4 linked regions of the Homo sapiens genome follow. The protein of the gene in region 1 purifies or fractionates together with the protein of each later gene. This does not show direct contact. Each region holds a gene or a part of one and is shown on either strand. Other genes may lie near its edges.

The links. The genes of interacting proteins can lie anywhere in the genome.
Region 2: the proteins of SRPRB (region 1) and EMB purify together in Homo sapiens (affinity purification with mass spectrometry; 4 studies listed by BioGRID and IntAct, with this or other methods). This does not show direct contact.
Region 3: the proteins of SRPRB (region 1) and STX8 purify together in Homo sapiens (affinity purification with mass spectrometry; 4 studies listed by BioGRID and IntAct, with this or other methods). This does not show direct contact.
Region 4: the proteins of SRPRB (region 1) and THEM6 purify together in Homo sapiens (affinity purification with mass spectrometry; 4 studies listed by BioGRID and IntAct, with this or other methods). This does not show direct contact.

The regions. Positions count from the first base shown.
Region 1 is NC_000003.12:133,808,815-133,812,314, forward strand, and holds part of SRPRB (signal recognition particle receptor subunit beta), read left to right. Parts: intron 1-2,302; coding exon 2,303-2,385; intron 2,386-3,500. UniProt on the Homo sapiens protein: Component of the signal recognition particle (SRP) complex receptor (SR). Ensures, in conjunction with the SRP complex, the correct targeting of the nascent secretory proteins to the endoplasmic reticulum membrane system.
Region 2 is NC_000005.10:50,399,789-50,403,288, forward strand, and holds part of EMB (embigin precursor), read right to left. Parts: coding exon 3,390-3,500; intron 2,532-3,389; coding exon 2,498-2,531; intron 126-2,497; coding exon 71-125; intron 1-70. UniProt on the Homo sapiens protein: Plays a role in the outgrowth of motoneurons and in the formation of neuromuscular junctions.
Region 3 is NC_000017.11:9,544,821-9,548,320, reverse strand, and holds part of STX8 (syntaxin-8), read left to right. Parts: intron 1-3,038; coding exon 3,039-3,149; intron 3,150-3,500. UniProt on the Homo sapiens protein: Vesicle trafficking protein that functions in the early secretory pathway, possibly by mediating retrograde transport from cis-Golgi membranes to the ER.
Region 4 is NC_000008.11:142,730,223-142,733,722, reverse strand, and holds part of THEM6 (protein THEM6), read right to left. Parts: intron 1-3,500.

The sequences.
Region 1 (3,500 bases):
GGGAGGTGGAGGTGGCAGTGAGCCAAGATTGCGCCACTGCACTCCAGCCTGGGCAATAGAGCGAGACTAAGTCTCAAAAAAAAAAAAAAAATATAAGGAATCATGGGAAAGACATTTTACATACCTCTGTAACTTCAGAATGTAGACAGTGACTACCAAACCGATTGTAATGCATAAGTTTGTTTGTTTGTTTTTGAGACAGGAGTCTCACTCTGTTGCCCAGGCTGGAGTGCAGTGGCATGATCTTGGCTCACTGCAACCTCTGCCTCCCGAGTTGAAGCGATTCTCCTGCCTCAGCCTCCTGAGTAGCTGGGATTACAGGCGCCCACCACCATGCCTGGCTAATTTTTGTATTTTTAGTAGAGATGGGGTTTCACCATGTTGGCCAGGCTGGTCTTGAACTCCTGACCTCAAGTGATCCGCCCACCTCAGCTTCCCAAATTGCTGGGATTACAGGCGTGAGCCACTGCACCCAGCCATGTAATAAGTTTCGGTGAGTGAGTGGAGTGAGGGCTCGTTGGAGGATGTGGATGGATAGATGGATGAATTAGAATTGTGGTTTGAGACCTTTTCTTCTTCTCTTTGTCTTCTTTCCCCTTTCTCATGCCTCCAGAATTAAAGATTGTAAAGAAAAATAAAGGGACATGTTTTTAAATATCTTAGCGATATCTTTGTTTTTTTTTTCAATGATGACACTCTTTGTGGCCCAGACCTTTTTAAACTCCCAAGGATTCAGATTTTGAAATTCCAGGTTTGCAAGATCATCTAGTACCTGCACTAGATTTTTAACTTAGGATACTCCAGGATATGCTTTAAATCTGTACCTTCTAATATGTAGCCACTGGCCACATGTGACTGTTGAGCACCTAAACTAGGACTAGTCCAAATTGAGGCATGCTGTAAGTGTGAAGTACACACCAGATCTTGAAGACTTAGTATGGAAAAAAAGAACGTAAAGTATCATTAATAATTTCTTTTTTTATTACATTTTAAAAGATAATATTTTGGATATATTAGATTAAATAACTTAAAATTAATTTTACCAATTTCTTTTTACTTTTTTATTATGGTTACTGGAATATTTAAAATTACATATGTGGCTTCTGTTATTCTATATTTCTACTATATTTCTATTCTATCAATATTTCTACTGAATATATAGAGCATTTTTCCCTTCCCTCTTCACTCTTTCTCCTACCCCCTTACGTTTTCGATCTAATCTCTTTAGATAGTAATATACCTAGTAATGTATCTTCCAAATTGCTTAGGGTGTGTGGTATAGTGCTGCTTTTGAAATGGAGCAGTTAAGTCCCAACCTGGGATCTCCAGACTCTTAACAGTACTTAAAAAAAAAAGAGAGGGACTAATAAAAAACATATTTGTCTATAAAGAAATGCACAGGCTATGTGAAAGGTAAGGTCATAATAAACCCAGCTGGAATTGTGTTAAATCTGTGCAGGATACTGATTGCCTGCTTCTGAACTGTGGGTATGGTTGGCTGTGGATAATGTAGAACATGTAAGAAATGATGGTCTGCTGCATGTACCAGGCCACATCTAAGAGTCTTATTGTTGAGCACAGCCACGTTTACACTGAATATAAACTTTATTCACCATTCCAGGCCTTGACCTTATATTCAGGAATGGCAGCCTGGCATGGTGAATAGAACTTATTAGGGTGCATCGTAGATTTGCTCAGTAGGGGCTCAGGAATTGACACAAATGCTGACGGAGTTGGAACAAGTAAATTATATGTCTGGAAGATAAATATTTAAATAATTAGATTAAGGGTGGAAATGATAAAAGTGTACTTTGTTATAAAGATTGGAGATCCCAGTAAGAGTAATATGCTCTATGAAAAATTGTAAGTTCTTATATTACATTATTAGTTTATGAGTACTTGTTACTGTTTTCACATTTTTGCTTATACTCATACAGTACTCCTACTTTGCTATACTCACACTGGTTTATCTCCCAAGCCTCAGGTAGATCATGCTTCCCTGACTCCCCCAGACAGGTTTTTCCTGTACCCTCAAAACATTTATCAGTGTTCTCATTTTATATTTATGTGTAATTTTACATTATGTTCACCTTTCTCATAAATTTTGCCAGATCAGGAACCGTGTCTTTGGCCACTGTTACATCCCCAGAACGTTGACTAGTGTTTTATGAGTAGAAGATGCTTTGTGAACATTTGTTTGGTTAATTAGGTACCAGTTTGGTAGCCAATATATGATACTAAAGGTTTATATTGTGAACGTGGAACTGTATTGAAACGTTAATGTTATTGCTGCCATCCCCAGGGCAATAGTCTGACCTTGATTGACCTTCCCGGCCATGAGAGTTTGAGGCTTCAGTTCTTAGAGCGGTTTAAGTCTTCAGCCAGGTAAGAAGGAAAGAAGTGAAGTGGGCTTGTCTAGGTCTGTATCTGTATATCAAAGCCACTCATGTGATTTGCTCTGGTGGTGTTTGGGAGGCAGCATGGTATCCTGTGGTAGACCTTGAGGTGACCTTGGGGTCAGCCAGTTCTGGGTTGCAAGTCCACCTTCACCTGGATGATGAGGATTTTATGGGATTAAAATGCTTAAAAAGTGTTTTTTAGTGTTTAGGAAATGTTAACCCTTCTTGTCATTGTTACTAAATGTTTGCATTTATTCTGAAGGTGAATTTAATAATGTATATGACTATTAAAATCTGAAAAAAGAATTTTAAAGCTGGGATGAATCCTAGCAGTTTTTAAATGCCAACATCATTTATATATATAGTGTTTTTTTGTTTTTTTTTTTTGAGATGGAGTCTCACTCTGTTGTCCTGGCTGGAGTGCAGTGGTGTGATCTCGGCTCACTGCAACCTCCACCTCCTGGGTTCAAGTGATTCTCCTGCCTCAGCCTCCTGAGTAGCTGGGATTACAGGCACGCACCACCACACCCTGCTAATTTTTCATAATTTTAGTAGAGATGGGGTTTCACCATGTTGGCCAGGCTTGTCTCGAACTCCTGACCTCATGATCCGCTGGCCTCAGCCTCCCAAAGTGCTGGAATTACAGGCGTGAGCCACTGCACCTGGCCCATATATATTCTCAAATTACGTAAAATTGATGTTTCAAGAAGTACAGAACAATATTTCCATATTTCTTTTAGTGTGTGCTCTGGTGTTACTGACTCTTAAGTTCTTCCCTAAAAAGTCTTATGCTGCAGTTTCAGATGCTTCTTTTTTGGTCTCTAACATTAATAAGAACTGAAGAGGAAAATCAGTATGCCACATTTCACTGATTTGAAGACACATTTTAATATCTCTGAATTTAGAATATATCTTATAGTTGATGGTGTCATAGTTTAATTGGCAGTATTTTCTCTTAGCGGTCCCTAAAATAATGTCTTTAATTGGCAGCATTTTAGTTTTGATGGAATGAAGTAGTAGATTCTTTGCCTTTTATTGAAGATGTCTAGACTGAAATTTCATTATTGCATCTTTGCCCACAAGATGGTGGTGATGAACAAT
Region 2 (3,500 bases), on another chromosome or scaffold:
CTGATTGATAGATAGCCTATGTATATTGAATTTGACCTTTTATTTGGAATATCATTCAGAAGTAACTTACATTTTTTCTATGCCTGGGGACATTATTTTCTATACCATTGCTATCATCTGATTTCCTGCACAGAAAACAAAAAAGAAAATTACTAAATGCTTATATTATATAAAATTAAGTCAGTACATCACTGATATGGCTATCAGGTTAAAATGTAAAATGTCAATACGGACAGAATTCTTTCTTCCTAAAAATGTTTTACTTACAATGTTGAATTTATTTTATGGCATTGCTTGAAGAGGAGCTGTTACCACAAATGATAGTGACAAAGGCTTGTTGATTTTATGCACAGGGAGAATTGCTTCTCCCCAAGCATGAGTGAGGACTTGGGCGTAAAGACCATAACTTATGTGTGGTTTTGGAAACATGCAAGGTAATAGCCAATTAGGAGGTCAGCCAACATGTGTGATATTGGTGCTATACATTTGTATGCTTATTACACTGAAATAGAGGTTAAAAATGGTTCTTTTTCCACCCAAAGTTTATCAGAGCAGGACTACAAATGTGGGCCTCAGATTCTAAAGATTGACGGAAACTAAATAACCAGTATGCATAATGAATACCTTGCCCTTCAAGGTCTTGGGGGCAGGCGTCAATTATCAAATCATAATGCATATTATAAGACAGTGTTACTTACAATTAACTGATAATTAATATTTTCTAAAAAAAAAGAAATCCCACGAGTGCTTGTTTTTCTTTTGTGTGTACTCTTCAAAAGCAGAATAATGGCCACTAAGAAAACACCTCAGCAACTATTGCAAGAAATGGTTTGAGGGACATCAAGAAGCTCATTGTTCTGAATGATTTCAAGTGCCCTTGATATTTGTATACAATCTAAAGATAGTGAAATAACCTGAAGAAAAACTAAACACCTTCAGTGATCCTTATGGTGCTATACAAGATGAGCAAAATGATGTACATTGATCCAATTTTCAGAAAAATAATTCATCTTTTACACTATATATTGAATCCATTTTACATTGTTCAGAAGTGATGGTCCATTCCACACTGTTCTGGTACCATCCTTTCAGAGTGTGTTTTAAATCAGAATGCAACTTCCAAATGTGAGCTCAGAAGAATGGTTAGAGACAGTGGGAGGCAGAGCTCGGAGAATAGAGGAATCCGAGCAAGGTTCTGTTTTCAAATATGTCAATGACTGTCACGTTTGTTATATGATGCTAAGAACAAGAAAAACGCCAATACGTGGAAATAGGAAAGATTAAAAGTTCAAATCAACATAAATAAGATATCTATGTTCTCCAGAAAGAGAAGGGATTCTCTTGGGAGAGATACAATTCCCTTCCAACTATGGGAGTCTATGATTCTAAGACAACATTGCTTTTCTCTATCTGGTGTTATAGGATTTCTGATGTAGTTATTTTGTGCCCTTAACTTGGAAGCTCATATCATATTGGTTTATTTTAGCAGCCTATGTGAATGGAGTCAACATGATTATCTGAATAATGTCTACAAACATCTAAATGACAACTGTCTGCTCCACTCCTGCTATCCATGCCTGTAACACTCACTCCATAGAGCTCCTGTTGGCTGATAAACTCTAAGTGCCATTTTGTGTTAGTTATAGTTGCTCAGGCCTTCCACTTCTCAGGTTTCTTGCAGCAACTTTAATCTAGCCTCGTTTTCCTGGACTCCAGCCCTTGGCTCTATTGTTCAGGCTTTAATCCCAGTCTTGGACACCTCTGTCACTGGCCTCCATACTCAGTTCTCTGGCTTCGAGGAATTCGGAACTCCCATCTTTGCCAAACTAAATTACATCCCTGGTGATTTTATTTCCAGACCTCCTCATGCTTAACTCTAAACAAAGGCTGTGTAAGAGAACCTGTGGCACAATTTGTGTTCTCTGAATAATAATAACTAATAGAATTCTAGGCCAGTGATTTTCAACAGACAGAGGATCAAAACCATTTGTAGATGTTTTCAAGAAATAACAGATGCCATAGCCCCAACCCAAGAGGTTCTGATCCAGGAGATTCAGCAAGGTCTGAGCAACTGTATTTTTTTAAAGAGGCTCTTAAGTGATCAAAAATTGCCAGGCTTGAGAACTATTGCTTTAAAAATAATAATATTAAATACTTCCTGATGGTTACTGCACACCTTCTGTGCACCATAACCTATGCTATGCATTTACACATATATAATATTCATTCCATCCAACAACCTCATATGGTGAGTACTATTATTAAATCCATTTTGTAGAGAAGAAAGCTGAAGTACAGAGAAGTGCAGGTAGTAAGTGATGAAGAAGAATTCTCACGCAGGTAGGCAGACTTGGAAAGCCACTTTCCACCACCACGTGGACATATACAGAAAATACTCCTCTGCCTTTTCTCCCCCTAACTGCAAACATTTCATTCAATTTTATGTTTCCCTGTATTTTACCCAAGTGAAAATTAATCTGTAAAAAATAATACTTACAGCTGTTCAATCTGCTCAAATTCTTTCCCCTCATCTGTGTAACAAAAGAAGAATTTGACTGTGAAGTTGGTTTGTCACTTTTATGGAACATATATGCTCAATTAAACCTCCTTCCTAAGTAAGTAAGTACTATGCTGTTTCTCCTGTTTGGAATGAAGGAGAGACATGCTACCTTAAACACCTACACCTCCTTTATCTGCACTACAGACCTTATCTGCATTTCTGATCAAACATAGTTTAGTGGCCTGGTATTTTCAAAAACATGACTGCTTAGTTTGTCATTATTTAAATCATTAAAAATTTAGTATAAAATCAGGAAAGAATACAGGACGTAAGGTCAATTTTCTAGAGGATTACTGCTTTATCAACCTGTAACCCATCAGGCACAGGCCGCAAAAATAGGACATGACAGGATGGTCTCTCTTTAATGAGAACTCTGGAATGGTTAATAAAATATTTTTTTAAATGATAATCTAAGTGAAAGAAAAATTGTTTCTTTTAGACTTTTTATATTAAGCTATCATAGATTTTTCTAATATTCCAGTGCCAGAATACATATCACCTAATTGGTACTTAGGTACCAGTAGCACCAAAAAAAAAAAAAAAAAAAAAAAGAGGGGGGTGGTGGGGGAAGAGAAAGAAAAAAGGCATTTTTAATACTAAGTTTTTTCAGGAATTGAAACAGGAAGACCATGGGTATATGTTTCCAGCTCACTGTCACCATTGTTGTAAACCTAAATACTGCTCCAAATAAGAAAATGAAGATTTTCCCCAAAAATCCTAAAGTCATTGCAATGTATCAAATCATAATCCATATCATAAGTAAATGATACTTATAATTAACTGATAATACTTTCTAAAAAAAACAAAAAACAAAAAAAAGAAATCCCACCTGAGTGCTTCTTTTTCTTTTGTGTGTACTTTTCACAAAGCAGAATGGTGGCCACTAAAAGAATCACCTCAGCCACTATTACAAGAAATGGTTTGAGGGGCACCAAATAGC
Region 3 (3,500 bases), on another chromosome or scaffold:
CCAGCCTGGACAACATGGTGAAACCCCATCTCTACTGAAAACACAAAAATTAGCTGGGCATGGTGGCATGTGCATGTAATCCCAGCTACTTGGGAGGCTGAGGCAGGAGAATTGCTTAAACTCTGGAGCTGGAGGTTGCAGTGAGCCAAGATCATGCCACTGCACTCCAGGCTGGGCGACAGAGGGAGACACTGTCTCAAAAAATAATAATAATAATAAAGAAAGAATGTATAAGGTCAGGTGAAGTGGCTCATGCTTGTAATCCCAGCACTTTGGGAGGCAGGAGGGTCACTTTAGATTAGGAGTTTGAGACCAGCCTGGCCAACATGGTGAAATCCTGTCTCTCAAAAAAACCCACAAAAATTAGCTGGGTGTGGTGGTGGACACCTGTAATCCCTGCTACTTGGGGAGCTGAGAGGAGAATTGCTTGAACCCAGGTAGTGGAGGTTGCAGTGAGCCAAGGTTGCAACACTGCATTTCAGCCTGGGATGATAGAGCAAGACTCCATCTTAACAAAACAAAACAAAAAAAAAAAAAAGAAAAGAAAAGAAAAGGAAAGAATGTATGAGAGTGTCTGGTTCCTTGTCCCTTTCCAAAACTGTCTTCTCAGTTTCCTAATCTGATAGGTGGAAGTGGTATCTTGTTTTAGTGTGTATTTCTTTTCTTTTCTTTTCTTTTTTCTTTTTTTTTTTTGAGACGGAGTCTTGCTCTGTCACCCAGGCTGGAGTGCAGTGGCACAGTCTCGGCTCACTGCAACCTCCGCCTCCCGGGTTCAAGTGATTCTCCTGCCTCAGCCTCCTGCGTAGCTGCGATTGTGCGCCACCATGCCCAGCTAATTTTTGTGTTTTTAGTAGAGATGGGGTTTCACCATATTGGTCAGGCTGGTCTCGAACTCCTGACCTCGTGATCCACCTGCCTTGACCTGCTGGGATTACAGGCGTAAGCCACCACACCTGGCCAGATATATTTTAAAAGTGTTTGTTAGCTTTCTCCACTCATTCATTTTATGGCAGAAGTTGTTTCCAAACATATCCTTTACTGTGTTTCTTTTTTCTTTTTTTTTTTTTTTTTTTTGAGACAGAGTCTCGCTCTTTCACCAGGCTGGAGCGCAGTGGCGCGATCTCGGCTCACTGCAACCTCCGCCTCCCGGGTTCAAGCGATTTTCCTGCCTCAGCCTCCCGAGTAGCTGGGACTACAGGCGCACGCCACCACGCCTGGCTAGTTTTTATATTTTTAGTAGAGACGGGGTTTTACCGTGTTTGCCAGGATGGTTTCCATCTCTTGACCTTGTGATCCGCCCACTTCAGCCTCCCAGAGTGCTGGGATTACAGGCGTTGAGCCACCGCGTCCAGCCCTTCTGTGTTTCTTAACATACCACACACATAGACACAGTTCAGCCTAAAAACAAACAAACAAAAACTTGTGTCTGGGCGCACTGGCTCACACCTGTAATCCCAGCACTTTGGGAGGCTGAGGTGAACGGATCATGAGGTCAAGAGATCGAGACCATCCTGGCCAACATGGTGAAAACCTGTCTCTACCAAAAATACAAAAAATTAGCTGCGCGTGGTGGCACGTGCCTGTAGTCCCAGCTACTCAGGAGGCTGAGGCAGGAGAATCGCTTGAACCCGGGTGGCGGAGGTTGCAGTGAGCCGAGATCGCGCCACTGCACTCCAGCCTGTAGACAGAACAAGGCTCCGTCTCCAAAAAAAAAAAAAAAAAAAAAAAACCACTTTTGTAGTTTGCATCAAGAAAGCTAGTATATAAAACTTTGTACTTAGTCCAAGGGAAGTGGCGCCGGTTGTTGACAGACGCCACTTCCCTTTTTGCTTCATGCGCACGCGCCGCATTCTCGTCCACCTATTGGTGAATTGTAGGTTTCTTTCCAAAGACTACATTTCCCAGAAGGATGGTTGTTTGGTTTTTTTTTTTTAACCATCACTTATGAATTGTTGTGGAAAAGATGTTAGAGACTATTTAGTGTTACATATAAAGAAAGAGAGATCCCAAAAGGTGAAATAACTGGTTCAAGAGCATAGATAGTGGAATAGGGCTACAACTCTGCCTCTGGGGCTCCTAGTCTAGCGTGTTTGCTAGATTCACACATTAAAATGATTCTCTTTGTAATTTTCTTTACAAATCATGCAATGTATTTAAATAGTGAACTGATGGTAACAATTTATAGAGCAAATCTGTTGCATAAAGTAGCACTTTATAAATATCCTAGGTGTGTTAATAGATATTAACATGGAAGAAAGAGAGCAATATAGAGAACTTCTCTCCCCCAGCGCCCCCACTTTTTTAAACAGAGCATCTTAGGGTATTAATATGTAGGAAAATGCCCTGGAACACTGACACACACATATAACTCAAAACCTAAGGAATCACTGAGCCAGGTTGCACCATTGGCAGGAGAAGTCATTTAAATTTGGTCACTGGGGCTGGGCGTGGTGACTCACGCCTTGTAATTCCAGCACTTTGGGAGGCCAAGGCAGGCAGATCACCTGAGGTCATGAGTTCGAGACCAGCCTGGCCAGCATGGCAAAAACCCGTCTCTAATAAAAATACAAAACTTAGCCGGTTGTGGTGGTGCACGTCTGTAAGCCCAGCTACTCGGGAGGCTGAGGCAGGAGAACTGCTTGAACCCGGGAGGCAGAGGTTGCAGTGGGCCGAGATCGCGCCATTGCACTCCAGCCTGGGCGACAGAGCGAGACTCTGTCTCAAAAATAAGTAAATAAGTTTGGTCACGGGGAGGAAAGTAATATTTACCTGGTATATTTCTCAATGAAAAACTTGTGTCATGATCCACGTCAGTGTTTATAAGTGCCTCTGCGATGGTCCTGCCAAGGTCCTTTACCTGACGGCCTGGTGAAGGTGAAGGTCAGAGCAGGAAAAACGCAAGAGTGGTGCGCATCCCTTCTGGGTAGTAGTGATTACAGTCTGTAAAAGCCACAACTGACTTGAAGAGCTAACTTAATAATGTAATAGTTAAAACGAGGTCATTTATTCACCATTGAACCTTAACAAGATATCTGCAGAACACAGCTTGAAGGGGACCGAAGACAGAACCTCTTGGATGATCTTGTAACTCGAGAGAGACTACTTCTGGCATCCTTTAAGAATGAGGGTGCCGAACCAGATCTAATCAGGTAGGATGTTTTTATTTACAGGGATTACTTGGTGGGCGAAGACTTCTTTGCAGATACTACAGCTGTTTCCTGAATGGCTTACTTTAGGAATTAATCAAAATCTATTCTATTCATTTATGGTGTTTGACTATAATTTTCTACTCAATTTAGTTTTCGTTAATTTTTGTTTGTTTGTTTGAGACAGAGTCTCGCTCTGTCACCCAGGCTGGAGTGCAGTGGCGTGATCTTGGCTCTCTGCAAGCTCCACCTCCCAGGTTTCCACCATTCTACTGCCTCAGCCTCCCAAGTAGTTGGGATTACAGGCGCCCACCGCCACCGTGCCCGACTAATTTTTTGTATTTTTAGTAGAGA
Region 4 (3,500 bases), on another chromosome or scaffold:
TTGACTGAGACATATCTCCGATACTTTTTGGTTCACATGACTCAACAGAAACAGAAGACCAGGGAGCCGTGTAGCTTTGTGCAGTGCCATAGCTCCTCTGAGCCTCAGTTTCCCCATTCCTGACATGACCTCTCAGTGTCAGAGGCGCTGGAACCAGAGCGACTCCATTTTGAGTGAGGGCTGGGAAATGAGGCTGGGGCCTGCTGGGCTGCATCCCCAGAAAGAGGCATTCCGAGCCTCTAGATGTTTAGTTGTAAAGTAGAGGTTCCTCTTCAAAGACTTTCCTACCGATCTAATTAGGAATAAATAGTAACTTCTCTTAGAAGCAAAATTTATTCAAAGACCTGTGCTAACATTATTAAATATCTGCTAGCAGTAATAAAGAAAGCAATGTACTACTTTAGGTTCTTAGCTCCCACAATTTAGCCTAAATATTTGCCCTGGCATGCTTATACTGGTCCAAGCGGGCATTAGGTCATAGCCTGTTCCTCTTCCTTATTTGAAGGTGTTTTTACCTTTCTCAGCATTCCACAAATTACTTCCTTCCTTTGTTCTCCTCTGCCTTTGCCTCTTTTAAAAAGTTGTACGTTGCTAGCCAATCGGGACAGATACAGAATGTGAGGTCCCATCCCAGTCAATGGAAACCAGAGACGGCAATAGGGTGGACGCGTCAGGTTATAAATGACCCTGTTTCCTTTGTTGGGTGAACTCTTGTGGCAAAGCTGATGGCAAGTGTGTCCTTTCTGCAGGAAGTAAAAATGTCCTTGCTGAGTAAATTAAATTTATGTTCAACTGCTGTTTCTTTACGGCACCGGGGAACAAGCATTTCAAACAATTTGGTGGCAATCCGTACAGGGCTACATTCTCCTGCGGGGGCGGTCTCTGTTCCTCTCTCATGAGGGAGCACGCTCCTCTGCCTCACTGCAGTGGCCTCAGGGATGAGAAATTGAGACCCACCTGGTGTGACGAATAAACCCGGACTCTCAGCAATGCAGAAAAAAAAAAAAAAAAGAAACTGGCCAGCAACCTAAGGTAAAGGATGCTCACATACCAGGGCTGCAACTCTGTGCACAGACCAAGGAAGGAGAAGCCACAGAAGCTGGTAAAGTACTTCCTTGGTGGTGAAATTCTGGAGGGCTGAATGTGTGTATGTGTGAATGATCACAGACAACCCTGCTTGCAGTGTGGTTTGTGTGGACGGTGACAAGTCCTCCTGCTGGACAGTGAGTGGGTCCCCTCCATGGTTCCGGTTCTGTAGTGACCTCATATGGCTTAGGGCAGGTCCTGCTGTGGGATTTATACCAGCACGCCTACACTAAGAGGGGCCTAATTCTCCCTTGGGGGGGCGACCAGAGAGGACAACACAAGTGGGAAGTATGCAAGGGACCTTTGGGGGGAAAGGAGGAAACAGGTCAACCTCCCAGGGCAGGCAAGGCAAGACACCCCTGGTTTGAGGGGTTAAGTCTTCCATTAATTTCAGGGGGTTGAACCTCACACAAACCTCCAGTAGTTAAAATATATATATATATATATATATATATATATATATATATATATATATTCAAAACTCCCTTTTCCCCTCTTCACAGGGAAAGAAAAAGGCTAAGCTTCACTCCCGCTGGTTGGTCCCCCAGGGGAAGGGGAAGGAGAGGGGGGAAAACAGCAGCATAGGTGGCTGGCAGAGACAAAGGAAAGACCAGCAGACAGGAAAAAGAACTAGGAGAGGAAGTCAGAAAAAAAGAAAGCAAAAACAGCAAGCACAGCGGCGCCAGGAAGAGAGCAGAGGAGGTGAGAGGGCATAATTCTTGCAATTTGTGGCAGGCATCTGCCAAGCCTCTGGGCTGCCGGGGCCGGACTGCAGCCATGCAAATCCCACCCAGCCCGAGAAACTAAGTGTAGGAAGAAAGGGGAAAAAAAGTAAAAAGGGGAATGGTGGGGGTGGATAGAGAAACTGACGGCAGTGCATGCCCAGGGGCTGGTGCCATTGCCCGGCCCTGCTGCTGCAGGAGCGGGAGAACTCAGGAGGGAAGAAGGAAGCAGGGGATGAAGAGAGTGAAGAGAGAGAAGAGACAGAAAGAGATTAAAATACAGAGGGAAAGAATAAGAGAGAAACTGGAAGAGACAGAAATCAAAGGAAGACATAGAGGGTGAAACTGAGAAAAAGAAATAGCGTAAAAGGCAGGCAGAAAGTTAAGACATGTTGAAGATTGTGAAAGTTGTAAGAAAAGCTATAAAAGGGAATTTATGCAAGAAATAGTGTATAATTTAAAAGTAATTAGGCCTCCTGAATGTAAAATTATTTAAAAAAAAACAGTTTATATACAAGGTATGTCAGAAAAATAAAATAATACTTTTAATAACAGGATTATAAGGAGACATAATATGGATTTTTACCTACATTAAAAGGTTAAAAAATATATTTTGTTTTAAAGGTTTAAGCAAGTTTTAAAATGTTAATTGTAAAGGAAATTCTGTGTGTAAACATATTGGCTAAAGCTAAAGGGGTATCATGCAGTTTTTCTGTGAACTGGATGTTAAAAGCACAATAGATTTTTCTTAAAGCACTAACCCGCTCTTTAACAAAAATTATAAAAGCTTAAAAAGAGTCTATAAAAATCTTACCCTATAGTCAGACATTAAAATTGAATAAATAATGTCTACAAGATTTTATTAAGTTTGGCCGGGCACGGTGGCTCACGCCTGTAATCCCAGCACTTTGGAAGGCTGAGGCGGGCGGATCACGAGGTCAGGAGATCGAGACTATCCTGGCTAACACGGTGAAACCCCATCTCCACTAAAAAATACAAAAAATTAGCTGGGCATGGTGGCGGGCGCCTGTAGTCCCAGCTACTCAGGAGGCTGAGGCAGGAGAATGGCGTGAACCCGGGAGGCGGAGCTTGCGGTGAGCTGAGATTGCGCCACTGCACTCCAGCCTGGGCGACAGAGCAAGACTCTGTCTCAAAAAAAAAAAAAAAAGATTTTATTAAGTTTAACATTAATAGCACATTAGTATAAAGGTAAAATTTAACTTATCTGGTATAAAATCATACAAAAAGCACTGTCAAATATAAAATGGTGTTTAGCTTTCTTAAGGCCTGAAGGTGGCCAGGTAAGTCACAAGGCCCCTCATGTCCAAGGCCACAGTGCACAGGGGCAGTGAAGGCCCCAAGAAGGCCAAGAGCTTAAGAGGAGGCAGGGCCGCAGTGTCCCCTGGGCGGCGCTGAGCAGGAATGGAGCGGGAGGCATCACCATGGGGCCTCAAGCCCCAGGATATGCAGCAAAAATGATATACTTAATTTATCTTCCAGTTTCCCTTCCCTCAGAACTAAAAGACTTTTAGTTCTAGGTACCACCCCTAGAATTTCCAGTACACCAGCACCAGCCTGAAAACCACGTCCTCATCAAAAGACAGAAAGAAAAAACTTGAGCCAGCCTGGGAAGAACCCTATTTTATGCTGTTAACCACTGAGACTGCCATCCGCAGAGCCAAGAAAAAAACG